2 separate regions of the Homo sapiens genome follow, and region 1 is linked to region 2. Evidence: fine-mapped expression QTL. A gene starts in region 2. The other region holds a variant in brackets. All regions are shown on one strand. Distances are from middle to middle.

What was found. PIP is the estimated chance that this variant, and not a neighbour inherited with it, causes the effect.
Region 1: its variant is fine-mapped to the expression of GCOM1 in whole blood (INTERVAL, PIP above 0.99).

What each region holds. Positions count from the first base shown.
Region 1 is chr15:57,555,271-57,571,034 of GRCh38, forward strand. It overlaps the pseudogene RPS13P7. Among named protein-coding and RNA genes, the nearest start is that of GCOM1, 29 kb to the right of the region's middle. The variant AGAAAT/A (reference allele first, on the strand shown) is at 9,513.
Region 2 is chr15:57,583,758-57,599,521 of GRCh38, forward strand. GCOM1 (GCOM1, MYZAP-POLR2M combined locus) reads left to right here and starts at 8,147. Exons shown (of 17, transcript NR_104371.3): 1 at 8,147-8,352. It overlaps MYZAP (myocardial zonula adherens protein), which reads left to right and starts at 8,147. Exons shown (of 13, transcript NM_001018100.5): 1 at 8,147-8,352. The coding sequence starts at 8,278. RefSeq lists a silencer at 8,036-8,145.

The DNA.
Region 1 (15,764 bases), 28 kb before region 2:
CCAGGGTTGGTTATTCCCTGTGAGAGAGTCAGAGGGGTGCAGGCTGGAAGCATAGCGCTCCTCCACCCCTGCGCTGGTCATCATGTGGAGCGTGTGCTTTCTAAGAAGTGCCAGCCTGTGTCCAGAGCCTGCTGGGCAGATGTTAAGCCAGCTGTGGACTTAGTCACAGTGACTCTGCTACCAACAACAGCAACATGGACATTTAGGGAGGAGCAAATGAGAGGAAGGAAGAAATAGGCAAGATAACAAGGCTTGACATCTGATCTCTGGGCATTTCCAATGGAGGGATTTGGTTTGTTTATGTTTCCACCACCAAGAATTAACAGTGGTTAACAGCTGTTCATATCTGTCTGCTTTACATTTTTAAATAAACATTACAGATAAAATTGAAGTTCTCTTTTTGTCCCTCACTCCCTGCCAAAGGCAACCACTATTCTCAAATCTGCTGGGTATTCTATTCAATTTTATTTTTACGTGTATGCATCCATGAACACCATGTAGTATGTTTTGTGTGTTTTAAAATGTCATATACATCTCAGCGTCTTGTATATAGTACTCTGACTTTTACATTCAAAATTACATTTTTTTGAGGCCTATGTTGATGTAGATTATTTAGTCATTTGTTTTTCTTTTTAATCACTTTATTGCTTGAGTACATAGACAAATTTATGCAACCAGGGCGAAGCTGTAGATGGTTCATATTTCCAGCTGGGAGGGAGGACTCGCTTGGTTTTATAATATCGAGCCAGACGGTGAATCCGGCTCTCTATCAGAATCAGAAGGAATTTAGCATCCTTGTCTTTTCTGCTCCTCTCAAGATGCTTTTGAACAGCGACTGCTTTCTTAATTAAGTGGTAGAGATCTTCAGGGAGATCAGGAGCAAGTCCCTTAGACTTAAGAATTCTTATGCCTGTCACAAAACGCACTTTTGCAGCACCATGTCAGTCTCTCAGGATCACACCGATTTGTGGAGGAGTCAGGCCCTTCTTGGTCAGTTTGTAAATCTGCTCCTTCACATTGTCAGATGTCAACTTCAGCCAAGTGGGGACGCTGTGGTGATAGAGCAAAGCCGACTGGGACAGGCCCTTCCCGGGCACATGAATGTGACCCGTGACGGCGGCAGTCAGGCAGTGAAAGGCTGTTTTTATTTTTTTATGGTCATTTTTTTTGGCAAATTAAGTGTTGAATGTTGAGTTTTTAAAATACTGATTGCTTTATATGCCATCCGCTTCAAAAGGAGTTGAGTTCTGCTTCAGGCATGACATGGTAGCTGGTATCAAACTGAACTCTTCCTCTGGGAACAACTAGAAAAGGTGGGCAAAAATTTCTTAAAAGCAGTTGTTTGAAGACCTGGAAGAACAACCAAGACACTCTGATGTGGAATTGGCCATTGTTCTTCCCTGGCTGCTGTTGCTATGGGTCATGGTGCTCGCAGCCCTCCTTGGATGGTCGGATGGGTGAGAGGGTTGCTCACACAAATGCCCTGCAGTTTTTTAAAACAAAAGATCACCCCCTTCAGTTAGAAACTGAAGGTCGCTGTAGTGGAATCCAGACAGCAGAGTCTTTGGGTACGGGGAAGGCTGGCAGGGGGACACTGTGGAGCAGAGCCAGGGCAGGCCAGGCTGGGAGCTATATTGTAGGGTGCTCAAATTCTACCAAGATTCTAAAATATCTCAAGTGTAATTAGGGGTGCATTGTTTAAAAAATAGTCTAAAGGAAGTCAGTACCTTAGTAGCCACACCGGGGAGTGGTAAGACCCCAAGGGCTGACCTGATCAATGGCACAGTGACTGAACTGCACTGTAAGGAGAGGACCCAGGCAGGTAGTGTCAGGGTGAGGTTTGGTTGAGCTGGGATGTCCAAGTTTGGGACCAGAGCTGACCAGGCCTAAACAGTAAAAGAGGAACACCAAAAACTGCCCCGGAGGACTTCGTTCTCCATTTTCACCCCAGAACACTGTTTCCCCTTGTCCTTCCAGTATGGAGAATAAATACTAAAGAATATTGATTGGAAAGAACACTGAATTCTTGGCCTGTTTTGGGGGTGGCATTTTCAGCTTTCCTTGGGTGGCCACATGTCTAGTTTCAGGCTCACAAAGACCAAGGTCTCACCAGCTCTGTCCCCTGTGGAATGGTGGTGGCATCTTCTGTGTGATGGTGAATTTTAGATGTCAACTTGACTGGGCTAAGGGATGCCCAGATAGCTGGTAAAACATGAATTCTGGGTATGTCTGTGAGGGTGTTTCCAGAAGGGATTAGCCTCTGAATCGGCAGAACGAGTAAAGCAGATGGCCCTCCCCACTGTGAGCAGGCTCTGTCCAATCTGCTGAGGGCCCTCACTGAACAAAAAGGTGGGGGAATAGAGGATTCATTCTCTACTTAAGCTGAGACATCCGTCTTCTCCCACTCTGACATCAGCGCTCCTTGCTCTCCAGCCTTCAGACTCTGAATGGGACTTAGGCAATCACTGCTACCCGCCCCCCCACACCCCCATTCTTAGGCCTTTGGGCTTGGACTCAATTACAGCTTGCAGGTGGAAAATCATGAGACTTCTCTGCCTCTAACTGCATGAGCCGATTCCTATAATAAATCTCTCTCTCTCCACACACACACACCCACTGGTTCTATCCTTTGAGGATCCTTGATTAATACACTCATTCATCCCTTGAAACGCCCAACTCTGTTGTGGAATTGACCATTGTTCTTCCCTGGCTGCTGTCGCTATGGGTCATGGTGCTCGCAGTCCTCTTTGGATGGTTGGATGGGTGAGAGGGGTGCTCGCACATCCCTGGGCTAACTGGGGTAGTTGCCTTGTTCATTTTGCTATATCCCATTTGGACCCTTTATGATTGGAGTATGAACTACATTTAGCAAACTTTTAAGTTCAACCCAGGAGCTGGAATCCTTACATCCTGGGAGTAGCTCTTCGAACACTTTGGAACTAGAGGCATGCATGGTGGTGGGTGTTCTTAGGTACGCGTTTCCTAGATGGATGGTCCTGAAATGGTATGACACCTCAACTTGCCAAGAGGCCTCCCGTGTGTTCCTGCTTGGCAGGGGGTGAGATTGAAAAGATTCATTACTTCCTTTACATATTTATTTTTCTATATAGAATAAGGTAACTGTATTACTACAAATTTGGAAAATAACCCCACCATACTGATGCAACCATTATTAGCATTTTGGCTCATTTCTTTCCAGTCTTTTTTTCCTACACAGTTTTTAAAGCATAGGTACAACTGCAGTGTTTATATGATTTGTATATGCTTTTTTTGTCACTTAACATTATAGATATTAGATAATCTTGATCACTTTTTAAAAATGCTTTTTAAAAATACACTTAAAAATCACATCACATTGAGTGAATTCTGTCATCAGTTAACTATAATACTATTTGTATATTAACAAATGTGTAGGATTTGGAATTCTGCCTTCCTACATCAAATACTGTTATATCTGTAGCTTTTTCATCTTTCAAATAATTTGCTTTGGCTAGATGACCAGAAAGAGAAGAGGAAAGACAACATCTTTAAGTCTCTATAAAAGTTCCTAATGTGGTTTGGCTCTGTGATCCAAACTTTATGTTGAATTGTAATTCTCAATGTTGGGGGAGGCACCTGGTGGGAGGCGACTGGATTATGAGGGCAGATTCCCTCCATGCTGTTCTCGTGATAGATCATTCTCACGAGATCTGATGGTTTAAAAGTGTGTGGCACTTCTCCCCTCTTTCTCTCTCCTGTTGCCATGTGAAGATGTGCTTGCTTCACCTTTGCCTTCCACCATGACTGCAAGTTTTCTGAGGCTTCCCAGTCATGCTTCCTGTACAGCCTGCAGAACTGTGAGTCAGTTAAACCTCCTTCTTCATAAATTACACAGTCTCAGGTAGTTCTTTGTAGCAGTGTGAGAACGGACTAATACAGTTCCCAAGTTGCTTTTCAGAAGGGTTTACTAGTTTGTACAGACCCAAGAAATTACAAATGTGGCAGTTTCTCCCTTTCTCTCTCCCCTCAGCTTTGATTATTAACATTTCTTCCCGAATAATAGACTAATCTTTCTTTCATCAGGGCAGTCTTTTTATATTGTTAGTGAAGTTTCTTTTAGAAATTGTCGTTTTGTGAGTCTTTTTAATTTTTTATTTATTGTCTAGTGTGGTTTTTGAGTAGCACATAAAATAAATGCAGATAGTACAGGAGGGTAAAACAATGAAAAGTGAGTCTTCCATCCTTGGCGCTCATTTCTCCAGGCTCTACTCAGAGGCAGTCACTGTTTCTAGTTTATTTTGTTTCTTCTGCTTCTTGTACATTTTTCTCGGGGACTCCTGGATCCCTCGCCCTCTGGCTTCCCACTGCTTTTCTGGTTCTCTTTAAAGGGCACCCTACCCCCAGCTGCATTGTCAGGCTCAGTGCATCTCTCTTCCCTAACAGGTCCACAGTGGTCAAAACTCTAAACATATGAACACTTATTGGGGAAGGTAGTGAGGATGGGAGCCAGTGGGGGATGTGGCCTGGGAGGGAAATATTGCCAGATCTCATCTTCCTGAGATGGCAACAGGAGATTTGGACCAAAGGCTCTGGGTCTGTTGGGGGGATGGGGGGAACAGCATTTTCAACCAGGTGTTAGTAGTGGCTGCAGAAATGCGGTTTTCTGGGATCTCAGGTGGGCTCTTTAAAGAAGAGACTGATGGGTGATGATGGAAGCCTTCACAGTCCTGATGTAATAGCCGAGGTGGACAGCAGGGGGAGCTGTTGGACGCTTCTGGCCCAAATGTGGCACAGGAGTAGATTAGTGGCTCCTGTAATCCAGGGCCCCACCCATCAGTGGTGAAGTCCCAAAGAGGACTTTGGACAAAACGAAGCTTTGCCTTCCCAGTGTTGCCCAGGTGATCTGGTGTTCCTATGTTACTCTTAGGTGAACTGTTGCAATATTCGCATTGCAACAAATTGAATTCCAACATTTATTGTGAACTGCTATTTTGTGAGAGACCTATGTTATTCATGCATACCTTTCAAAGGGCAGTCACTATGCACCTAGTCTGCACTGGCTTATGCTGAGATGAGTAAGGCTCAGTTCTGGACCCAACGGGATCAGAAATGTCCACCGAGCACTAAAAAAACAAGGGATGGAATTTAAAGCACTATAAAAGAGGTATAGATGAAGTGTGGCGGAGGTTCATGATGGGAACGGCTGTCATTGGATGGAGCAATCAGGGCAGAATTCATAGAGGAAATGGCATTCGAAAGGGCTTTAAAATGGGCTTGAAAATTTAGAACTGTTTATTATGAAATTTTAATCTCCTAGAAGGGTGCATCTTTGGTGGAAAAAACAGAGGGAACACGGGGATGAAAGCTGGGCTCAGAGGATCAGCCAGTTGCATTAAAATCTTGAGTAAATGAAGTGGAGAATTACTGGAGGTGAGACTGGAAAACACGTTTGGATCCATATTTTTGGAGAACCTTGAATACCACTCTTAGTAACAAGGCAGCAGTAGCTGCTTATAATCAGGAGATTCTGGATAAAAAACAGAGGAGTTGGGGTTTATGCCTTCTTGTCATTTCTGAGAAGACGAGTAATTTTTTTAAAATAGCCAGTGAAATTAGTTCCTATAAAAGATGTGATCCTTGATCATCAATAAGGACAATCGACTTCTCCCAATGGAGAAATCTGATGATCCATTTCACACATCCCTGGGTGCAAATTACTACCTAGTCTACACTAGTGTTTCTCAAACTTCAGTGTGCATCAGAATAACCTTGAGGGCTTGTGAAAACATAGACTGCTGGCCCCACTCCCAGAGTTTCTAGGGCAGCCAAGAATTTGATGCCAATGCTGCTGGTCTGGGGACCACACTGAGAACCTCTGGGTTTAAACATCCTACCTGACCTTTCTCAGTATATCCACTGGGTGGCAGCAGAGAGCATCACAGGCACTGCACAGTGGTCAAACCTGGAAAGCCCGGGCAGAGGCTGTGGAGGACTATTTCTGTGTATTCAATGTAGGTTATTTTTGCTGCCAAATGACAATACAAACCATCCACAATATCAGGCTCTTCAAAATTCAAGGATGCGTTGTATAAGAGAATGATTGGTGACTTGGATCTTGTTCCTTTTCCAGGATGTCGTCACCACCAGACCCAGTCGAGACATCCTCTCTCTACCAGGCGCCCCCAACAAGTCCTTCCTTCAAAAAGAGAATAGTTTTTAATAACTTTCAAGGTCACCTGCAAAAGGGTTTCTGTTTGAGTAATGTAATGACTGTAAAGCTGGCAAAAAACTGTATCGCCAGCTGATAGCTTGAGTCAGACTGGAAAATTACGAGCAAATTTTTCCATGAACCAAGAGGAAGTGTCCAGTCATTGTTGAGAGCAGGTTCATAGCTGTGTACGAGCTCTAGGAGATGGGGAGGCCCGTGCAGACCTACTTCCTTCAAGAAGGGAAGACAAAAGAAACACGTTTTGAGTTTGGGTTTTTAGATGGTTGGGAAGTTTATGTTATAGGATTTTTTTTTGAGGGGGGGGTTTGTTTGTTGATTTTTGTTTTTAAGTTATGAGAGTTATTTTCTTTTTCTTCCTTTTTTTTTTTTTTAGAAGGAGTTTCACTCTTGTTGCCCAGGCTGGAGTGCAATGGTGCGATGTCGGCTCACCACAACTTCCACCTGCCAGGTTCAAGTGATACTCCTGCCTCAGCCTCCTGAGTAGCTGGGATTAGAGGCATGCGACACCATGCCTGGCTAATTTTATATTTTTTGGTAGAGACGGGGTTTCTCCATGTTGGTCAGGCTGGTCTCGAACTCCTGATCTCAAGTGATCCACCCACCTAGGCCTCCCAAAGTGCTGGGATTACAGGCGTGAGCCACCGCGCCCGGCTCTGAGAGTTATTTTCTACTAACCAATGATGTACTGCTAGATTTTGGAATAAAAGGTTCTATGTGTGTGGGGAGGGGAGGAAGGAGCAGAATCAAAAAGCCCTGAGCAATGATAGGATGGATTAGAGTTTGGAAAGGGAAACGTGGGGTCCAGAACACACTGGTTAGGCTGTGGCAAGGGGGTCCTCTTGACATCCTCTAACCAGATCTCACAGCACACTTCCTGCCATGTCGCAGCAGAGACCAGCCCTCACCAGACCCGGTGCTGACATTAACCAGGTGCTGCCCTGAGCGAGATGGCGTCCTGCCACGCCTGCTCCGTCATCTGGGAGATGCCTTGTCGGCAGCTCCAAGGCCTCCTGTGGGAAGGCATGAACGTCTGTCCTCACGTCCCTGCTTCCCTTATTACCCAGCGGTGGAAGTTCATCCCCCACTCTCCTATCTTCCTGAATTCATCCCATCCTTTGTTGGCCCTGTGTGTGGTTTCTTCCTGTACTCTCTTTTGTGGATTTTTGTAGAATTTCAGAAGTGATTGTGATATTAGATGTGATCATCTCTGCTCTGCCTGCTGCTGGGGATGTGTGGCACTGACCCACTCTCCCCATTTTCCTCATTGTGGCTCTATAGTCAAAAAGGCTCTTAGGCCCCTTCTAAGTTCTTTCTTCTCCAGGCTAACATCCTTTTCTTCTTTAAGTCCATTTTTAACATTGGTTGTGAGTTAACTCCTGACCTCTCCCCCTCTGTCTAGTCCATGCTGGTCACTCCCTCCTTGCTCTAAAAGTGAAGGTGCTGGTGGGAGCAGGACCTTCTGGCTATCCCCAGGCAGGCCCGTGCCTCCCTCGAGGCTTTGACATTGTGATGTGTGTGTCTCTTCACACCAGGGTGGGAGCCCCTTGAGGGAAAGAACCACGCCTTTCTCTCTCGGGAGAAAGCCCCTGTCAGACAGCAGGCATTTGAAATTAAACAGAACATTATAATTCTGGGTCCTAACCTTTATAAATGCAAGGCAAGACTAGATTATGTTAGCGGATTTGTCAATATTCATTTGGTTCAGTCTTATTGCACAGATAGGCAATTAAAGCATTTTAAATGGGCTGTGCTTAAGTGTGGTCCCCCTCTCATGTACTCCTATAGCAGGCTTTAAAACACTGCATTGCGCTTAAAGATCTGCTTCTTGGATTTGGGCTGTTGAGCTCTTTTCCTTCTTCCACATCATTCCCTCAACTTCTCAAGAAGTTGTCAACTTGAGATGCTGACACATTCTGCAAGTGCACAGGGACACAGCCCTAAGAGTGATCAGCTACCCCCAGTGCCCATCAGTGGTTCAGTGAAGGACGGCATCCCTGCTTAGAATTTGACCATTCAGTCTGCCGGTTACCAAAACCATGTTCATGCTTTAGTGTAAAGGTTTAGCATCAAGGTTACGTCCCAGGTGATGCTTCAAATCCAAACTTCCCCCTTCCCTGGGCTCCTGTGGTCTTTTGTTCTCTTGCAGCGCTTCCGGACTGTGGTTAGCTGATTATAGTTATTTTTTCCTACATCATTAGGTGGTGAGCTTCTCCGGGACAAAGTCTGTCTCATTATTCATCTTTGTTTGTAGCAGGTGCCTGACAAATACTGATAGAATTAAAATAACTTTTGTTTGTCTCACATTTTGATAAATGAACAGGGCTATATTTACCTGAACGTTTATGATTTCATACATGGACAGCATATTTCCTCTTGGGCTTTTCTCTTCCTAGACTGGATAGATTTAATGATTTTAGTTTTATGTCACAGGACAACCCTCCACCTGGAAGAACTGAAGTTCTATTAAGTTTAGGGGTTTCTGGCTAATTTGTAAATTGTTGAGAAAGAATCCACCTTGTTCTGGTCAAAAGGTGACAAATATAGTTAACTTCAACAAAGGGCAGAGAGTCAGCTATTGTTTCTGCCAATGATTACTTTTGTTATATGCTTGAGATCAGATACTAGTCATTTGTATCCCAGTTAACTTAATATAGATAGCATTTTCTAATATTTTCAAGCGTTACTCTAATGCTTTTTGACGCCTATTTTGAACATCAATCTTTTAAACTCATTATATATTATTCTATAATTTATAGAAAAATCATCACACTTTACCTAATTCTTGTTTGTTTGTTTGTTTGTTTTGAGACAGAGTCTCGCTCTGTCACCCAGGCTGGAGTGCAATGGCGCGATCTCGGATCACTGCAAGCTCCGCCTCCGGGGTTCATGCCATTCTCCTGCCTCAGCCTCCCGAGTATCTGGGAATACAGGTGCCCGCCACCACGCCCAGCTAATTTTTTTGTATTTTTCGTAGAGACGGGGTTTCACCGTGTTAGCCAGGATGGTCTCGATCTCTTGACCTCCTGATCCGCCTGCCTCGGCCTCCCAAAGTGCTGGGATTACAGGCGTGAGCCACCGCGCCTGGCACTTTACCTAATTCTTATAGGCAATATTTTCTTTGGTACTTGGGACTTTTTTTAAAGAATAGTATCCTCAAATTGGAATTAGTGTGTCAAATAATATGAATGCTTTTCTGATTCAATTGGATTTTTAATTTTTATACTTACTCAAATAATTTATACTGACTGTTGAAAAATAGATAAGCAATTAATAATAAAGAAAGTCCCCCTTGCTTTCACTATTT[AGAAAT/A]AACTACTATAAATATTTTTATGTATATTTGTGTACACTTTTTTCTTTACATGGATGTTTATTTCACAAAATGTGGAATCTTACTGTTTATGCTATTACATAGCTTATTTTTTTAAATTATTGTGAATTTTTTCAGCTATAAAAAGATATTTTCTCAAAAATTTTTTTCAAAAGAATATATTTTTTCAACACAGTTTTAATAATTGCACTGTATTCCATGGAATAATAATACTAATAGTTAACATTTGTTTTGTAATTTTTATATGCTATGCAATATTCTATTTGTTTTATATACCTAAGCTCATTTAATCATCACAATAACCCTGTGAGATAGGTACTATTACTCTATTTTAGCAAAAAAAATTATGCATAGAAATATTAAATGACTTGCCTAGTTATGGGCATACCATAAATGTGCATGACCCAGTAGGTCATTGTAGAACATTTTAGTTATTTATTTTTTGTTTGCCATCATAAGAAATGTTGCTATTAATTCATGAAACAAATATTCACTGAGCTCCCACTCTATGCTGGGTGTTTTGCTAGAAGCTTCGTATGTAAGGGAAAAACTGTTGCAGAAAGTAGGCTTGGCTGGGAAAGAGACCTATTTGAAAGGATCCTGGCATGAGATGGCGTTTTCTCTCTTCTGTTTGCTCACATCGCGGAGGGGAACTCCATACTGCAACAGCAGCCCCTGGCTGGATGTGGTTTTGTCTCTTTCGTCAGCAGGGATATCTCCCGCCCCACTTCCTTGCTCTCTCAGGAAGGCCCCCTCGTGCTCCGCACACCTGCCAGGGTGGGGCTTGTGGAGTTGACCTTCTTCCTTCCTGAATCAGACAACCAAACCAGAGGTGTAACTTCGGTGGCTGGTCCTGTACCTCTGATTCTGTTCTGTGTTCTAAGCAGAGTTTTCACGAACAATGAAAACGCCTGGGAGTGTTCATTGCCAGTTATTAAAGAAAAATGGAATTGGCTACTGTACGGTGTAATAGTCCCCAGGTTATTCCACCCTTTCTGGCAGACTATTTACTCATGTACTTTTAGTATACTGAGGGAAGGCTAAGAGATCTCTGGCCAGTGGGTAGGAAAGAATAAAAAGTCTTTGAGTTTTCAGGTATTTTCTTTTAGTAGTAGCTTCCAGCAAGGCACAGTGGCTCACGCCTGTAATCCGAGCACTTTAGGAGGTCTAGGCATGTGGATCACTTGAGGGCAGAGTTTGAGACCAGCCTGACCAACATGGCAAAACCCTGTTTCTTCTAAAAATACAAAAATTAGCCAGGCATGGTGGCACGCACCTGTAATCCCAGCTACTCAGGAGGCTGAGGCAGGAGAATTGTTTGAACCCGGGAGGCAGAGGTTGCAGTGAGCTGAGATCATGCCACTGCACTCCAGGCTGGTGACAGCAAGACTCCATCTCAACAACAATAAAAAACCTTTATTAACATAATTTACATACCATATTATTCACTCTTTTAAAGTGTAGAATACATGGGCTTTGAATACGTTCACAGAGTTGTGTAACAATCACCACTGTTTAATTTCAGAACATTTTCATTACCCCAAAGAGAAATCCCATACCCACTGTAGCTTCTCATTCTCCCCACCCAAATCCCCCAGCTCCTGGCCACCACTAATCTACTTTCTATCTCTATGAATTTGCCTATTATGGACATTTCATATAAATGGAATCATATGTGGCATTTTATGTCTGACTTCTTTCACTTAGCATAATGTTTTCAAGGTTCATCTATATTGTAGCATGGATCAGCTCTTCATTATTTTTTAAGGCTGAATAGTATTCCATTGTATAAATAGAACACAAACAAAATATAAATTTTGTTTCTTCATCCATCAATTGATGGATATTTGTGTTGTTTCCACATCTTAGCTATTATGAAGAATGCCGCTGTGATCATTTGTGTACAAGTTTTTGTTTGAACATATGTTTTCAATACTCTTAGGTACATTGCAGGCATGGAATTGCTGGGTGATAACGTACCTTGATGTTTAACCTTTTGAGGAACTGTCAAATTGTCTTTCAAAGTGACTATATAACTTTACAATCCCACCTGTCATGTATGAGGGTTTGTTGCATTTTTAATTGCAGTTACCATGAAGTCTGTAAAAGCCAGGCAGTCACAGCCACAGGGCACAATTCCAGAGTGCAGAGGAAGTTTTCCATACAACTCTCACCCTCTTGGCAGGGATACCAGGCCTGCATGTCTCGTGACTGCACATGTTGTTTAGACAATTGTCTCTGTTTGGTGACCCACAGTTTTCGTACTGATATCCGAGTTTTATTGGCATTGCTGACCTATGAGTCTGATGTCTTTGGTGCAGAGCCTCTATCACAGTTTTACCCAGAATCCCATTGCTTTGGACCAATAATAACAACATTCCCTTTGTACAGGTCTTTGCAATTTGCAAAGCACCGTGTTACTTCCCTTTTCTCCAGAGCCTTATGCTCTGCTTTCCAAGGTGTTGGCCTTAGTATAGCAATGTAACCGCTGCTAAGGTGTGTAATGGCCAATAAGATGCTGGCTTTTCCTAAAGAGACTCACTGAGTCCTAATATTTCCCTAGTATAAATGTATCAGTAATGATGAAGATGTCAGGTGCTATGATAGAGCAAAATGGCTTTTGAGGCTCCCTCAAAGCTAGTCTTAGAAGACTCCCCCTCTGTGTGCAGGCCATAAGCTTGGCATCGTTGTAGGAACTTAGTACGGTGTCCAAGCCAGAAGACTTTTCTTTTTGAGACGGAGTCTCGCACTGTCGCCCAGGCTGGAGTGCAGTGGCGCGATCTCAGCTCACTGCAAGCTCCGCCTCCCGGGTTCACGCCATTCTCCTGCCTCAGCCCCACGAGTAGCTGAGACTACAGGCGTCTGCCACCACGCCCAGCTAGTTTTTTTTTTGTATTTTTAGTAGAGACAGGGTTTCACCGCGTTAGCCAGGATGTTCTTGATTTCCTGACCTCGTGATCCGCCCACCTCAGCCTCCCGAAGTGCTGCGATTACAGGCGTGAGCCACCACCCCCGGTCCAAACCAGAAGATTTTTCTACATCTTTCTTCTTATACAAAGATCGTTTGTGAAAAAGCTAAGATTGGTGGCAGGTTTTCAGGAAATTTTCCTTTTTTTTTTTTTTTTTTGCTAGTTTGTGTTCCTAAATAGTGAACATGCAATCGCTAAGTTTTTAAAAGAAGCGAAAAATTGATGGTAGGCCCAGCAGTTAGAAGGCCCTGGGGTTACAGTTCTTCCACAGGGCAGTTGCTGTTTATGAGTGTTCTTTCTTATCTGTAAACCCGTTCTCTATGCCTGAGAGAACATTCCTTACAGCCATGACTCCTTAAAAAGGATAGCCTTTGCAAAAGATTCTTGTCAAATGTTTTTCATCATCTATAAATCACACACAACTGTTTCCCCCAACATTAGCATCAATGTGTATGCCAGTTTCCTCTGAAAATGTCAAGCATGACTGCTCCTTAGAGAAACCATGTTTCTACCTCTCTTCCTCACCAAAGTTTATAAATTCCCAAGCATTCTCTGTGTTAACATTTTATTGTGTGTCACCTCACCCTGAAAAAAAAAAAAAGATAACTAGATTCTGTGCGTGAACCCCCTTCAAAACTCAACTCCCAGGAGAGCTGTGTGTTTTCTAAGCCTGAGCAGCTCAGAATCCTGGTTCATGAAGGCTTGTGGTCTAAGGGCTGGTTATTTCTTGTTTAAATTCAAATTAATTTCCCAGCTCCAGTGCAAATATATCCTTGCAATACTATACGACACCACTTTCTGGTACAGTCCACCTGCCTGTTTCCTGTGCTGTGTTATATCACTCATAGGAAATTCTAATATTCCAATGAGCAACCAGCCTGGAAAATAAAGCAATTCAAATACCTGGGAATGATGGGCTTATTACCATTGCTCCATTTCCCTGTGATATTTATTCATCAGAGATGAATTGCTTCTTTGTGATTTCAGAGGTCATCTCATCTAGTCCCAGGGAGGACTATGTCTAAACTAACCCAAACTGTGACTGTTCATTAGAGTCTTAAAATTTTATGGCTATAGAAAGATGACATCTTTGACTAAGAATTACTTCCACTGTCTATTTTTTATGAATTTTGGAAGTTCTACTTCAGTATAATCTGAATTTTTTTTGCTGCATTGTCTGTCATTTTGCATGCAATGCAGAAAAAAAAAATTCCACTCTGCATGCTAGAGTGGATCTGGTAACTGAGAATAATAGCCATTATGTATTGAGCACATATTATGTGCCAGAAACCATACATAGTGCTTTACAAGCATTACTTTATTTTATTCTCAAAACAGCCCTATAACGTATGTATTTTTTTTTCAGCCTTTTCCAGATGAGGAAGAAAAGGCCTTGAGACATGAACTAGCTCAGCGAGATGGCATAGTTAGACTTTTGGTTAAACAGGGCAGGTTGACATGCTTGGGTAGTACTGTTCCTTCCTGAAACCCCATGAAAATGACACTGAAGGGATTTTTTAACTTGATAATACAAGAATGATAAAAGAGAATAGGAGAGTAAGCAAGAGCAATGGCATCTGGGAAGCCGGAAGGAGAGGGCAAAGTGTCAATTTAACAGACCAGAAAATGGCACAGCCTATGTGGTTGGGGGTGAAGTTTGAAGTAGGCAGAGTCCTCTGAAAATGGGCACAGGTGGAGCTAAAAATAGGATTTGTTGAAAGTTTGTATATTAAATATTTCAATGTCCCTAGATCCTCTCCCTCCTGCTGCTAGAAGACTAGATATTTCTTCTCTGGAGCTGCCAGCTTTGGGCAGCAGCATAGCTGAGGACAGGGTACCATGCCACATGGGGGATTGAGTGAGTATATGTGCTGAGTGGTGACACCACTGGCCTCCTCCCCAGGCCCAGCTCCAAGAGCACTGGCAGCCAGGTTGATCTCTTCCAAGCAGGAGCCTCGAGGATTCCTTTCTAGGGAAGATGTCTGGCAGCTCAGGCATAGAATTTAAAAGATGTTGAGGGTTGGGAGTACCTTGGTGAAACTGCTCAGTGGTTTACCCTCTGGTGAATTCTATAGTTGATGAATGTCACCCCATCAACTATTGGGTGCCTCACTCTGAAATATGAGCGAACAGTCAAGGGTCATCAGGCATTTGAGAGAAGTCCTTAATATCAAAGACATAGACAAAAACAAAAACAAAAACAAACAAAACAAAACAAGGAACTAGGGATGAAACAAGCAATCTGGGCAGCAGCAAGAAACCTGTACCATAGCAACAACAACAAAGTCCTGTGATTGATTCATCTTCAGAGATTACATAGACAAGCACAAGAGGTTAGCATAGCAGAGAACCAAAATGATCCTTGGAACTTCAAAGTTGAGAGCAGAAAGAAAAACTAAATTTAATGGTTAGAAAATGAGGTTAATTGAAGTAATTATCCAGAAAGTTGAGTAATAACATAAATGAGGTGAAAAACAGGAGAGAAAACATAATAAAATTAGAGGATCAGTCCAAGGAGTTCCATAGACTAGGAACAGAGAATATGGAAGGGAGAAGGACGCAATTCAAGAAATTTCTCCATTTCTGAAAGACGTGAATCTATAGATATGTAAAAGGTCCACAGAGTGCCAAGCACAATGCATGAAAAACACCCACAACAATGCATGTGCCCAGCCCCCACTTATCCCTGGGAAATGTGTCCCAAGACCCCCAGTGGTGGCCTGAAACCTCGGATAGTACCTGCTGTAGTTTGGAGGTTTGACCATGCCAAACCTCATGTTGAAATTTGATCCCCAATGCTGGAGGTGGAGCCTATGGGAGATGTTTGGGTCATGGGGACAGATTACCCATGTACAGATTAATGCCCTTTCTTGGGGGTGAGTGAGTTCTTACACTATTAGTTCCTAATTGAACTGGTTGTGAAAAACAGCCTGGCACCTCCCCTCCTCTCTCTTGATTCCTCTTTCGCTGTGTGATCTCTGCACATGCTGGCTCCCCTTCACCTTCTGTCATGAGTGGAAGCAGCCTGAGGCCCTCAGCAGAAGCAGATGCTGGTGCCATGCTTGTACAGCCTACAGAACCGTGAGCCAAACAGGCTTATTTTATTCATAAATTAACCAACCTGAGGTATTACATTATGGCAACACAAAATGAACCAAGAGAGTACCAAACCCTATATATACAACATTTTCTTTCCTATACATACAAACCTGTGATAAAGTTTAATTTATAAATCAGACACAGTAAGAGATCAACAACA
Region 2 (15,764 bases):
TTGAGGTTTGATAATACTCATGTTGTTATCTAGAGAGCAGTGAGGTGGAACTATAATCTTGGACCAGGATCTACATGACTTTGAGGCCATAGGCACCAAACAACCATGAGGAAGCAGGTCAGACAGCGAGCTGCTCTTATGATGGATGCTGAGTGTGCTGCAAGCTTGGCTCATTTACATTTCTTCCCCTCCCTTCTTCCCGGATTAGTTTTATGGAGTTTTTAGGGACGGTGTCAGTGGCACAGTTTGTCAGGTGGAACATTAGTTCTTTTAGCCAGAAGTCTTTGTGTTGTGAACAACCTTCACAGCCACAAGCAGAAACCCTGCCTGAAGCCACTACTGGCATATCAGAAAGACCCCTGTCAGCTGGAGTGGGGCCAGATAGCAACTTAGGACAGAGTAAATTGAACTTAGAGGAAAATGGTTCATATTCTATGTTTTATGGTAAAGTTTATACTTGTCACAGGAGCTATAATGGAAACCTGTTTACATGAGTTCATTGGAGGCCTAAAGGCAGAAAAATAATGTTAGGGAGTACTATCGTTCTTCTTAGGATTAAAAAATAAATACTGTTCTGTTTCAAAGTTTTATGATTCTCTTCTTACATGCTAAGAATAGATTGGTTGTCTATATTAATCTGTCTTAAAGCAAATCAAATAGAGGAAAAGAAGGGCTTTATTCTTTTCTAAATGTCTTATATTAACACTGGCATGGAACACTCAATATTTTTGCTTTGAAGAAATTGTTCCAGACTTAAAAAAGTATTCTGTCATCTTTCATACTCAGCATTACCAAAAAAATGAGCAGGCAATTCCTAGTTTTCTTTAGAAGGGTCTTCAGTTTTGTTGAGGGCTATGACTTACTAGAGTCATATAGTTTATATTTTATGATCTCCTTCAAGCCTCACAACAACCCTAGGAGGTGCTGCTGTTATCCCCCATTTCACAAGTGAGAAGATTCAGACTTGGAGAATGAAAATGACTTGCCCAAGACTCCTCAGCCTGAATGTAAATGCGTGTTAGTTTAGCTCCAAAGCCCATGCTGTCTATTAAACAGTGTTCTTCAGACGGACTCCTCTGATTTGACAGCTAGAATCCCACAATCCCAAGGCCCCAGACCTCTGGAATTTGAAGGGAATAAATATATCTACTCTATGCCCCTTTCCCCACATGAGCTTGAGTCCTTTCTAGTCATCCTTGATGAGTTGTCTTCACCAGCAGTCTCAGACCTGGGCCCAGTACAAATGCTGGATGATGGCATAATAAAAAAATTGGGGAGCTTATTAGAATATAGCTTCCTGGGTGTCATCCCAGATCCATGAAATCAGAATGACTGTGGGTTGGGACCCAGGGTGCAGTGTTAGCGAGTCCCCAGGCAGCTTTGGTGTGCAGTCTGGCTTGGTGACCACTGGCAGAGCCACATTCCAGGGATAGGGAATTCCCTGCCTATGTGTGAGGTATCCCTGCCCATCATTTCCACCCTTCCCAATTTCTTTCCTTTATCCCTTCCCTTGGCTAGCTCTGGCTATTAAAGTTGTTCCTCACATTGTGGTTGAACTCCATCTCTCTGCAGCTTTTGCTTACTGGCCCCTGTCCTACACTTTGGGTTACACAGAAGGTCTAATCTCTCTGCCACAGTGAGTGACATTCAAGAAGGGAAGTCATTTAACATGTCTGCCAGCCTTTTCTTCTCTAGGGACAATATTCCCAGTTCTATCACTTGCATCTCCCATCATTCTTATACTCTCTGGGTCATGTTCTTCTGAAATCATTTGGGTGTTCCCTTTTCCTTCAAACCACAGCACCCAGACCTGAAGGCCACATTCTGGCATGCTTCGGCCAGCACCACAGAGTAGCTGCCTTCCTCTGAATCCCATATGAAATCAGATGAGATTTTCTAGGGCACAGAAGGGTGGGCTTCTGTGGAGCTACTGGCCATGCTGAGTTCCATAGGCATCTGTAGCACATGCTGCTGCTGAGCCGGGTCTGCCAAGTCCTGTCTTGTGCTCTTCTTGACCTTGGACTCAAGGTTAGGATCACAAATTTATTCCCGCCAGATTTCATCTTGTCAGATTCTGCTCCTGGCTCCAGCCTATTTGTTTTTTGGATCCTATCTCTTCCATCAGTAGATGAGTGTTCTCTCCCCTGATTCTTTGTCTGTATCCACATTGTTTTGTACCAGACTCTGTGGGCCATTCAGTGGTTTATTGTTATCATTGTCCCAGAGATTTTACTCTAAGCGGTGACATATTACATACCCACTGGTATCTACATTTATTTATTTATTGAGACAGGGCCTAACTCTGTTGCCCAGGCTGGAGTGCCATGTCATAATAATGGCTCACTGCAGCCTCAACCTCCTGGGCTCAAGCAATCCTCCCACCTTAGCCTCCTGAGTAGCTGGGACCACGGGTGCCTGTCACCATGCAAGACTAATTTTTTTATTTTTTGTAGAAACAGAGGTCTCACTATGTTGCCCAGGCTGGTTTGAACTCCTGGGCTCAAGTAATTAACCAGCCTCAACCCCTCAAAGTGCTGGGATTACACGTGAACCACTGCACTTGGCCAGTATCTACCTTTATATCTTGATTTGTTTACAGAAATAATATATAGCTATAGTGGACACAGTTGATACCCATGCATATCTCCTCAGCCACATTTCACCTGCTCTGTGTGTCCATTCCCTAGCTTTTGCATCCTTGGATGCTAATGGTCTGTGCCTGTGACTTTCAGAGGATTTTCCAAGGATATTCAGGTTCCTTGCCCCTGTGGAGTGCTGCAAATGCCGGAGAGTTCATGTACATTCCCCACCCTCCATCCCCATACCCAGGTAACCTTTAGCCAGTGACTGACTAGTATAGAGTACAAATGCCCTAGTTCTTTTGTCTTGAGGCAGAAGTAGCTGTGAGGTGCAATTTATACTTCAGAGCTGCCCATGGATCAGGCTGAATTTGAAACTTTACCTAAGGTTGCATCCTTGCTTGTTTCTTCCCCTCCCTGGGTCTCCCACTCCCTTCCTGGTTTCTCCTGGGAGCACCTCCCTAATGATCACCTACATAGGAGTCCTTGGCTCAGAATCTACTTCCGGGAGAGGGTGACCTAAAATGACAGTCATTGCATAAATAGACATATCAGATGTTCTGCTTGAATACGCACACAAAGCATTTCAGGACTTTTTATTTTTAAAAAAAAGAGCAAAAAAGAATTTCCCTTTTATAGATTGTCTATTTTTTTTTTGGTATAGATTTAAATACAGTTACTACTCATATTTTAATTTGTCCAAATGACAATTACTGACCGGTCACTAACTTTTGGGGTAAATTACTCAAGGAAGTACATGGGCTACAAAAAGAGATGCTTCTTGCCCCGTGCTTCTCAGGAAGGCCCCTAATTCTTTTCACGTGTCTCATCTGACTGATTCCTTCCTTTTTGTTATTACTGTTTTTTTGACATTGGGTGGAGTCTACTTCCTCTTAAAGACAGTCATCAGAGTATCTTCCTGAGAAAAGAAATACGTAAGGTTTCTGCCTTTGTATCAACATGTTTTCTCCAAGCTCACAGTAGTAGCTACTTGGAAAAGTAAGAGTGCTGCCTTCTTCTAGGTTTTGAGGTTTGTCTCACTGTGTTTAATCTCAGACTTGGGTGAAGTCCCAAGGCTGAGAAAGAAATCACTCATCCTTTATTTCATTCATTTTCTTAGCTGATTCCCCATCCCTCAGGATCTGTAGAGGTATTTGTCGACTATTCACTGGGGTGGCCTACAAAAATCCTCCAGCTTTTGGTTGGTCATGAAGTTCTGTGGATTTTCTGCCTTTTGAATCCATCCCCTCCTTTCTATTCCACTGCCACCGACTGCCCTAGTGCAGAGCCTCTTTACGTCATGGCCACACTTCCAGTGCACTCCAAAGTACTTGCCTTCCAGGCTCTGTCTGCCATCCTTACTCCTTTCTTTGCTGCCTGCCATCTTTCTTCATACAAATCTGATCATATCACTGCACTAATTGCAAAACTTTAAGAGCTCATAATCTGCTATTAAGTCTCAATTTTATTCAAGTCCATTTGCAATCTAACCCCACCCTACTTGTCTCTGGCCATTCCCTCCTGCCCTGAAGTTCAAGCAGAACTGGCTAACATGCATTTCCCACATCCCCCGACCCACTATTTCTTCCAGCTCCTCTGTCTGGAATGCGCTTACCTTTTCCTCCTCATTCTTCGTGTCCAACAACTCCTATGCCACCTTCCCAGGGAAGCCTTCACTGTTCTCTGCCCAAGCAGCTTCCCTCCTGCCTACCATAAGTGCTCTGGACACACCTCAAATCTGGCCCCTATCCCAGTAGAGGAGGTGAATTGTCAAGTATGCAGATGTTGGAGCCATCTTGCCTGGGGTTGAAGCTTAGCTTAACCACTTACTAGTGCTGGAACCAAGGGCAAGTTACTTAACCTCCCTGCCGCTCCATTTTCTCATCTGCAAAGTAAGGGACATAATACTACTTTCCTCACTGAGTTGCTGCGACAGTTAAATGTGTTGATGCATTTTAAGCTTTGTGAACTCAGTAAGTGCCATATAAAAGTGTTAGCTGTCATTTTATTTGCTAAGTGCACATCTCTCTTCCTGGTTTGATTGTGAACTCCTAGAAGACAGGGGCTGTCTTACTCACCTCAGTCCCCAGTGCTCAGTACACAGTAGGTGCTTGGTACATATTTGTTCCATGAATTGGCTTATTATTACTCTGCCAGTTGCCTGTTGGTTCACTGGGTTAACTGGCGAGACAACAGAATGATTTCCAATGAGCTTGTATTCCCCAGGGTGGATCAGCAAGTGGTTCCAGCCCTTGTGTCTAGACAGGCCTATAACTGCTGTGTATCTGGATGACTTGGCTGGGGTTTTGGGTTCCTTTCAGCCTGCCTTTCTTATCTCTAGGCCCCATTCCCTGTTTCTCGGACAACCTGTGAATATGGGGTGTTTCTTGTTCTACTTTATCCAAAGGGGCTTTGTAATGTATTACCCTTGTCCTTGGTTGGAAATGTGTCCTTTTTCTATTGTGAAAGTTTGGTCTGTTTGGCATGCAGAATGGGAGAATATGCCAGGACTTCGGGATGCTGTCGCAGCTGAATGGGAGAGAAAGAAAGAGAAGCTTCAGAGATATAAGAGTGAAGAGGGCATGAAATATCAGGAGGGCCAGAATTGCTTGGGTTCATCTACTGTGTGCTCTTGTCCAGTGATTTAACTCTTGATCATTTGTGCAAGAAATAATGAGTCATTGCTGCTCAGGACTTTGCTGGAGAAAAGGGTCCTATCATAAGCCTCTCAACTAAAGATGCCAATGGAATTTGGAAAGAGTTTAGCAGAAAGCAACAAAGACAATTCAGAAGCAGAGACCTAGAGGATATGAAAGATAATTCTAGGAACTGGGATGGGAGAAGGAGGTAAAATTCAGTAACTGATTACAAGAAAATGAAGGGTGCTTATACAGACATCTGGAATTTTCTACACACCTGTGCTTTAGCAGAGAAATTCAGGACTGCTCTTAGGCCTATGTGGCTATTTCTGTGGATAGAAAAGGATGACAGCTAAGACAGTTTTGTCATAGCTCCCGTTCTCTCCAGCCCAAACACTAGCAACCCCTTCATCACCAATGCTCAGAGGGTCTGGAGTAGATGAGTCATGTTGCAAGGGAATGTGGAGAACTTCTACACCAGACCCTTATCCCTGTTCCCCTCCCATTGGCCCTCTTCCCCACTCTCAGTTCTGTAGACTCCAGAGGACTGCTGACTGGGCAGAAGTTCTCAGCTTTTGATTCCTCTTTTGAAAAGAGTCCATCTTTTTTTAAAAATCATCTTCTCTCAGAAATATTAATGGAAACCAGTGACTGTGACTTCATTTTTTACTTTTTCCTCTCCACTCTAGATCCACTTTTCCATTGATTTCAGTCCTACTTGTCTTCCCATTTTCCTTCTTTCCCACTTTCTGGGCTCCCCACTCTCCTCTCTCTTGCAGTTCCTTATGACCTCAGATTCCTAGTGCTGGCCTATTAGGGAGGAGCTGTGGCATAAGCCAGGGCCTGGCATCTGCCTGGACACACCACCCACAGCCCTTGGCGATTGTCAGCCAGCTTTGGGGAAATGGCCTGGCTGGGACAACCCTGGGGCTCTTGTTGCTTCAGCTGCCAAATTGCTTGGAGTCCCTGGCCCACCCTAGGAGCTGGGTTGGCAAGGATCTTAGTTTCTGTTTTTCATGACCATGAGTGAGTTGAAATCTTACTCTGTAATAACATTTCTTCATTCTTTCCACATTTACTTGCACTACCACACGTCAATTACCTGCTCTAGATATTGGACAGGCAGAGATGTAAACAAGATCCAGCTTCTACACAGAGCTCACAAGCTAGTGAGCTGTCTGCTGCTTTTGTAAAGAAATATAACACCGTGTGAATAGGATGTTAACAATATGAAAAAGACTTGGGTAGATTAGAGGGCTTCGTGGAAGTGGAATGGGAAGGAACCTGTCATGAACAATTTTCTTTTTGGAAGGGATAGGTGGATGGGAGGATGCAGAGAGGAGTGTAGCAGAAAAGCAGAAGGACTTGGGTTAGAAGACTAGATGTGTAGTCTCAGCTGTTCACCAATTAACCTAATGTCTCTGGCCTCAGTTTCCTCATTTGCAAAACAGGGGCGATAACTGTAGCCCACCTTGTGGGGCATTGTGAGAATTGGTTGAGAAAATGCATATAAAGCACTTAGGACACAAGCACAGCTACTGTGAGGATGACGATGAGGATGGTGAAGAACAGGCTGTGCAACTTTGGGAAAGTCACTTGTATACACCGGCCTCAGTTTCCTCATCTACAAAAGGAGTGAGTTCCACAGGATCATCTGTAATTCTGTTTAGCAACATTTTTTTTTCAGCATCTTCCCTGTTGGTGCCATTGGGCATTCAGAGAGGGTCAAGGCCTGGCCTCTGCCCTCCAGAAGGACAGGGTACAGGCACACACATAGATAACTCTAACAGAAGACAGGGTCCCGCGGAGCTGCTAAGTTCCTGAGCATGCGTGTTTGGGGAAGGGGTTTCTGGAGAGCTCCGTGGGGAGGCAGTGCTTGACCTGGGCTTTGAAGACAGAGATTGTGTCTTTCCCTGCTGAAAAACACTTTGTCCTCAAGATAAAGGCCAAATTTCCAGCTAAGCACACAGGTTCCTCATGATGTCCTCAGCTCCCTTCCGCTGCTTCTCCACTGTTTTCCCACTGCACTGTGATACTTCCAATTCTTGAAACATATTTTATACCTTCCCTTGCTTTCCTTCCATCTTTGTGCATGCTAGTTCTTTTGACCTGGGACTCCCTCCTCCCTCTGTTAGGGGACAGCAGAGGGGACAAGCAAGGCACTAGGGTCGGACTGGGGGATTCATATCCTACCTTTGCCACTGAGAGGCCAGTGGGTCGCCTGCTGTGTTGCTCAATCCCTAGGTGAGTCAGCGTCTTCATCTGCAAAATGGGGATACAAGGTAACAACAGTGACTCCCTCAAAGGGCAATGGTGAGGATTAAATGAGGTAACACACGCAAAGTGCTCGCCAGGCAGGCCCACAGTAATCATTGAATAAATATGGGCAGTGTGGCCCACTCCTACTTGCATTTCAGGTCTTAGCTTAGTCATCACCTCCTCTGAGGTTGGCTGTGTGCTCCCTTAGTACATGGTATCTCCTCTTCTACCACAGCCCGGCACCTGTCATCCCCACCACACTGCAAACTCTCCGAGGCCAACAGCCAGTCGACTGGGTTGGCTGCTGGTGGGGACGCATAATAGGCATTCAGGAAATACTGAATGAATGACATGGGGTGAGGGTCCCAGTGATACGAGGGCGTGCAGAGGCTGTAGGGGGCAGTCCGGGGTGGGGGTAGGTCGTGAGACTGAATGGGCAGGTGGATCTCAACTCTGCGGGGGACAGAGAGAGCATGGGCGTCCAGGCTGTCCAGGGCTCCTTCTTGCCCTGGGACTGACCCTGGGAGGGCGCAGCGCCCTGGGAGAGGATGGTGCTCAACTTTAACCGGGTCGGCGCCCTCGGGAGAAAATGCAGCCTGACGGGTCGGGTGAGCGCGCTCGGCCCCGCCCCGGCCCGGCCCGGCCCCGCCCCCGGCCCCACCCCCGGGCCTTCGCGGTGCAGCTGAGGCTGCAAGTAGCCGGCGCCGTCCCGCGTCGCCCCCGCGCAGGGCGGGCCCCGCACGCTTATTCTGCCCGGGAGGAACGCCGGCGTCCAGCCCGCTACCGACCGCCGCTGCGGGATGCTGCGCTCCACGTCCACGGTCACCCTGCTCTCGGGCGGCGCCGCCAGGACGCCCGGGGCGCCCAGCAGGAGGGTGAGTAGCGGGGGCGGGAGCCGCCGCCGTCCCGTTCCCCCATCCCGGCCGCCCCCTCTAGAGGGGACTAGGGATGGGAAAGCTCGGGAGCCAGCACCTGGCCCCGACGCCCCACCCTGGGCTCAACTCCCCGGTCCTGTGCCGGCTCTGGCAGTGACCCTCCCGCTTGAGGTTTCAGGGGGCCCACCAGCTGGTAGGAGAGGGCTTAGGGGACTTTATGGAATTCCCAGAGATTTCCTCTCCTTCCTGCCTTTCTGTCAAGCCGAGTTTATTGGCGGCACCAGTTTAAAAATGAAGGAAGACATTTGTGCAGTGTCCCTACCTTGAGACTCAAAAGTAATGAATGTATTTAAAACTCAAACTTTCCTTCTTCCATTAATTAAAAGAAAGATGGGGTCACTTGTGTCCACTAGTGATAGGGTATCCACTAGTGATAGGGTAATTCTGGAGTGGGGTTAGCCAAGGTGGGCAAACCAGAACAGCAGCCGGCCGCCCAGGAGCCCGACTGTGTGGGACTCCGGTTTATGTAAACCACTTTCTTCTGTCTGATTTAAATATTAGCACAGTGACAACAATGGCAGCACTGAAAGCTTGGGACAGCATCTCCAGGGAAGGTTTCCCTTTGGAAGTGCTGTTTCTTTTTGATCTTTGTGGCATCTTTTCCCATCTCTCCAGATGCTCTGTAAAAGAAATGCTCCATCTTTCTAACACGGTCAGCACCTTAGAGCCACAGCCAGGGGCTTGGCTTGTGGCTTTTTAGTTCTTCCATTTATCATGATGTTCAATACTTATCATTTGGTACCTCTTTGCTCTGATTGAGACTTCTGTAATCGTGTTTCCTCAAGATTTAAACAGGTGGTTAAGTCCAAAGCAAAACCCCCACTGGTTCTGTCTGCGTGCAGGCTTGGACCTGCTTATTTGCTTTTACATGCCTTAAGCGAGTGATGGTGGTCACCTTATAAGCTGTCTTTCTTAGCTCTAGAAGAAAGGTGTGTTACTCTTGGGCATGGGCCAACTGATGGATTCTGGGGTGTGTGTGTGCGTGCACTCACCAGACACTTAGGTTGTGTACACAGGCGCACACACACACACACACACACACACACCCCAGAATCCATCAGTTGGCTCATGCCCAAGGTTGACAGAACTCCAGTTGTCCAATCATTAGCATCATAGAGTAAGATCTACATTGGGTCCAAGGGGGTTTCCAACCACAGTCCTGGCCTTACTCTAAGTTGGGTGTTTGTATTTTTCTATGGAAATCTTTCTCAATTTGAACACAATTGCAACTGAGAAAGAATGAAGTCACTGAAAAGCTAACCCTGAGCCCTGAGAGGATCATATGTGTGACCAGACTGCATGAATTGCATGAAATTCTCTGTAACTTCCCTTCCAGAGGTGGGGATTAGTTGGGGTACCTAACCTAATACGGTGGGTTGATACAAATGTGACTAGTATACAAATAACATTTCTGAAGATTTTGGGTCAAACGTTTCCTTTGGAATATTTATTTAATTATAGGTGCTTTGCTGTCGGACACATTGTGACACTCTTGAAAAGACTTTGCCTTTTGAATAAGATGGCAGACGTATTTTGGACTGGAGAACTCAGGGCTCGGGATCAGGCCATTCAGGGCTGTCCTGGGTACACTGGTACTTGTTTCTGGAAGGAAGGTATCTAAAGGGTCTAGGGTTCTGCCCATCTTTATGGTTTCTAGCTCTGCTCATGATTTGCAGATGTTACAAGTACTATCTGTGTGTGTGCTGGGGATTGTGTGTGTGGTGGGAAGCTGTGAGATGTTGATTAATTGATTTATTGAACATTCATAAACCTTTCTCTGTGTGGTAAAGGGCTGGCATTGGGGTCCGCCCTACCTGTAGAGGCAGACATTTTCCCAAACTAACATCAAACAAAGTGGTGATGGTTATAGTGGGGTGAAGAGTTTACAAAGTTCTGTAGAAGCTAAAATAAAGGTTCTTCCTGAGGCATCAGGGGAAGGCCTCTCACTAAAGGTATGTTTTTTTGAGATGGAGTCTCACTTTGTCATCCAGGCTGGAGTGCCATGGCACGATCTCGGCTCACTGCAGCCTCCACCTCCCAGGTTCAAGCAGTCCTCCTGCCTCAGCCTTCCGAGTAGCTGGGACTACAGGCGCACACCACCATGCTTGGCTAATTTTTGTATTTTTAGTGGAGACAGGGTTTTGTCATCTTGGCCAGCCTGGTCTTGAACTCCTGACCTCAAGTGATACAACTGCCTCGGCCTCCCAAAGTGCTGGGATTATAGGCATGAGCCACCCAGCCCCGCCTACTGGTGATGTTTGAGTTTAATCTTGCAGGATGAGTAGAATTTGTAGGGGAATTGACATTATTGGGATACTGAAAGGAGGAAATAACCATCTCAATGGAATACTTGGCATATATAATCATGTACTGCATAACCACATTTTGGTCAACAGTAGCCAGGATATATGACGGTGGTTGGAATGGTAGGCTATCTCATATCGCCTAGGTGTGTGGTAGGCTATACCATCTAGGTTTGTGTAAGTGCACTCTATGATGATTACGCAACGACAAAAATCATCAAATGATGCATTTCTCAGAGTGCATCTCCACGGTTAAGTGACACATGACTACTTTATCATGATGGCAAATTGGACCTGCTTTGGGACAAAATACCTATTGTTTAGAAAAGCAGGAACGGGATGTCCTGAAAGTAAAATTGTAGACCAAATAATCATTGGAAGTGTACCTTTCATTGAAAGTTGTTCAGCAAATACTGTATTGTTCTGTTATTCCTCTCTGATGATGGACAAGTGATGGTCTTGAACATGTTATCCATTAAAATTGTATTTCTGGTTCATCCAAAGAGCTCATCAAATTGGGTACTGCAGGGGAAACCAGCCTATGTGGGTCCAGATATTCAAGCCAACCAGAAGTGGTGGTGACAGCTGACACTGAGCAGGGACTCCTGCGAGCCAGCTGCCAAGGGTTATGTGGCTGGCTGGACTGCCACCAGTTAGCCTTTGTTCAATGGCTGCCACCTGCAATTTGTATTTCCTTCTTATCTGAAATCACCTCTCAAGGAAAAAAAAACCAACAGGTGGAGAGAGTAATTTCTGTCAGCTGATAAACAAAGCTCTGAAAGGCATTTATGGATGCCAACCAGCAGAAGTTGTGAAATTAAAAAAACTTCCTTCAAACCAGTTGTGCACTAAAAATAGTTTTATCTATGGCAACAGCAGGAAGACAAATTGACTGGAGAATAACCACAGCCAGAAGATGACCTTGGGGAATGGGGGGAAACGATTTTAAAAATATTGACCTTGCTTCATGCTTTTGAAAGGAATTTTATAAATGCCAGTTAGTCTTGCTAAATGGGCCTTTGAAATGGAAGGTTGGTTGTGTGGCTGGGTCGTGTGCTTTGCGGGGAAGGCATGTGTTGCTTTATGGCTTCCCCACAAAGCACACAACCGGGTCACACAACTGACCTTTCGGCACAATACTTACTGCCGAGTATTTTTGGCTAAGCTGTTCTGATCCTGGGCTGTGGAATGATAGATCTGTCAAGGATCTTCTCCAGCACCTTGCTCTCTTGATAATAAAAGACTGTTGGCTGGTGTTGCTGCTATCGTGACCCGTCACTGGCACAGAGAAAAAACAAAACCCAACAAGGTCACAGGATAGGACTATCTCCTAGCCTGCCCTTGCTGATATTTCTTTCTATTTGGCAAAGGCTTCCTCTGTTAAACACTGGAATGGGCCTGCTAGTCATTGTTCCTTGGCTAATGTGTCCCTCTCCCATGTCCCATTGCTGCCTGACTGGGCTAAGTTGTGAGGGTTTGGAACCAAGGCGTCCTCTGGGCTAAGGGCAGGGCTTAAACCTGTGCCGGTCAAAAATGATGGTTGTAGGCTCAGAAAAAGAGGTGCCCAGCTCTATGCTTTTGATCTTTCACATTGCCTTGTTTGATAGAGGATGAACAGACCTGAATTCTGGAGACTCGTAAGGAAACTTGATTTCCCCTAGACATTTATGGAGATCCCATGGCTTTTCTACAAAGGATATGGAATGTGATTTTGACCCATTTGTCTCTGGGGGCACTGATGGAGTGCTGCGTATGAGGTCCCTGTTGTAGTTTACCTATGCTGTGCATCCATATCTGAACAAGAGACCTGGAGGCTGGTGTCACTAAGCCCTGGTCACTGGGGAAGGCTTTGAAGTCAATTAGCCTCAAATGTTCTTGTCTAATTGAGTTCAAGGAGCTGTGGGCCCAGGGCTGACTAACTAGAGACCATGTTAAATATTTCAACCCAAGATACTTCTCAGCACTCATCATGCCTTATGGTCTTACGGAATTCCAGTACTTCTCCAGCACACAGAAGAGCAATACAGTGGTGTTTACCTCTTTCCCTCTTTGGTGAGTGATAGTTCCTAAGTGTCAACCACACTCCTGGCTCTTTTTCACTCTTAAAGGCCGGGGTGATCTTTCTAAAATGCTAAATCTAGTCTCCTGACTCGTCTGCTTCAAGAGCCTCCTCAGTACTGCCAGGAAAAAGTTCACACTCCTTAGTGTAGCATCCAGGCCCTCTGGTTTGGCCCGTGCCTGTGCTGTTTCCCCTCCCTATATGTGGTCTTCTCAGATATTCCAAATCGTTTGCCATTTCCCCGAGCTTTCGATGCCGTTCCTTGCCTCTTTGCTTTTCTTCATGTTTCTCCTCTGATGAGTGTTGTCTCCTCTAGGAAGCCTGCCCTGAAACCTCAACCCTCCTTCTCGTGTTCCCCTAGAGGCCTGTGCATGCCACCATTACTTGCGTCACCTGTGATTACCTACTGGAAGACAGGGCTTAGGAACCACCCCTCCCCAGGCCTGGTGGAATAGGCAGTTAAAAACAGAAATCTCACCAGGTCCTACGTAGAGGAGCCACAGTTAACATTGAATTGGCAAATGGAAAAACAGGAAGAGAAGCCTTGGGTTAAATCCATCCCATCACTTCTGACCCACCTGGGCAGGAAACGGGTGACAAATACATGGGAATGCTGGCCCAGGTGAGGAGGTTGACAGTTCTGGGAAGTCCTCCAAATATTCGAGTTGCCTCATCCTGCTGCACAGTTGGAGCTTCATCCCTTTGGTTCAGTCAGTGGTTCTCAACCAGTTATACACAGAATCACTGGGAGGCTTAAAATAGCCATGTCGAGGCCTCATCCCAAACCAATTAAATGGGAACATCTTAAAGTACAGAAAAGCATGAGTATTTTTTAGGAAGCTTCCCAGGCGATTCTAATGTGCAGCAAGGCTAACAATATTTCTTTAAGCATTACTCCCTTCTATAGCTTTCTTGGAAATGCAGACACTCCTGGGACAGTGTTGCAGAAAGGTCCCTTGAGCCTTGTGGGATGAAGGGCAGGGTGGTGATGGGGCAGGGAGGGGGAGTCCTCGCACTCCAAGTCACACTGGCATCTTTGTGTGCCTTCATCCACCTGTGTTTTCTCTCTGGATCTTGGCGTTTGGGGCACATTGTGTGCCTAGTACAGAACACAGCCACAGAAAGCAGGAATGTTTTGTATGCCTCTGAGCTAAGAATGGTTTTCACAGGGGCCTGCAAAACCTAAATATTTACTGTCTGGCTCTCTACAGAAAAAGTTCGCCCCACCCTGATGTAGATAATTGGGCTGCAAGTTCAGGGCCACAGCAGAGCCAAGAGGTCTAATCTAGATGGGGCATACACTGTTCCGCATGCAGCCTGCTGCAGGCTCCTGGGATTTGATCCTTGTGCTGAGCAGAGAGTGTGGGGTCTGTTCCCCCTAGCCACACTTACAAGGGCCCCACCTTTTATCATTAAGGGGAGCTGGGCAGGGACCCACAGTCACAAAGTGGAACAGGCCTGAGAGAAATGTAAATGCACTTGGCTAATTTCCTTAGGGAAATCCATCTTTGTAAACTGGCAAACCCCTGTCACCTCCCTGAATCATCTTCTCCACTCCCTTTTTATTTGAGATAGATATTTTTCCCCTGGGTGAGCCAAGGTGCCTGAAGTTGAGAGCATGATGTTACTGGATCCGCAGAGTACCCCGTAGGTGAGACCCAGGCCCTCATCTCCACAAAAGGGTCAGAAACAAGGCCTGAGGGGACCCATGTAGCTCCCCAGGGGCCCTGAGTTGCCAAAAAGGGTTTTGTTGTGCTTTTTCTTGTGGAGGAAACCTGAATGCTACCTGTCCCTCCCTTGCTATCCTTCCCAGGGGGGTTGGTTTCAAGAAAGTGCAAGGCACTCCAGGGAGTTTCAGGTATATTCTTACTTTGTTTTAGTTCAACCTAGAAAAAACTACAAAACCCAACACTGAGCGAGCGCCCATCATGTGTTGATACTATGCTAAGCACCGTAGGGGCTATATTAAGTGGTGACGGTACAAAGCTTACTTGATCACTCCCCCTATGTTTTCCCTTCCGTCCATTGTGTGGTGCATGGAACACTGGAGGCACTGAAAAATGACCAGTTGGATTATTGAAATGAACTCAGATTTGAATGTTAGTCTCTTCCTCCAAAGATTTGAATGACTCCTCATTGTCTTCTGACTAGAGCCAGTGCTTCTCTATCATGCATTTGTAGATTGATAGTTCAGCCCCTATCTGTTTGTCCATTTGCCTGTCCTACCCAGGCTTAGGCTGCAGGTTCTTATTCTTGGAACTTGCCGACATCTGTGTGTTTGGCACAGACTAGAACGCCTTGCCTGATAGCTGTCTGCTGTTGTTATGATGGTGGGTTCTCCAAACCTCACTGACCTGTAAAGTCCTTTCTGTCCTTCTATACCCAGCTTAAATTGTATCCCGAGGGTCCTTCCTGAGGGACTTTCCCATATATTCCCACCTCCCATTAAGATTAGTGTTCTTCTTCCTATATTCCCATGATAATAAAGAATGTTTACAGAGTGCTTAATGCGTGCCAGAAATTGTCCTAAGCTCTTTACACACATTAGCTAATTTAATCCTCACAACATTCCTAAGAGGGTATAGTATTGTTAGTTCTTTTTACAACTAGGGTAATGGAAGCACTGAAGACTAAGTGGCTTTCCAAAGGTCTCAAAGCTAGTAGGTGTCAGAACCAATACTGGAAGCCAGGAAGTACATTTCCACTATGATTTAACCACAAAGCTATCCTGTCTCTCTACACCTTGTATTGGTTATTCCAAGTGTTCTTGATTGCCTTGTTTGGGTATATTTCTAGATTATGTACTCCTTGGAGGCCAGCATTTTTTTTTTTTTTTGCCATCGTCGTACCCTCATAGTCCCTAAAAATATTTCACAAGTAATAGGTGCTCAGTAACTGAGTAATAAAGTATGCTGAGTCCAGCTTCCTGCTTTGATCTCCTGGAAGGAACCCTTGCCCCCAGGGACAGCTGGTTCGGTAGCAGTGGTGTT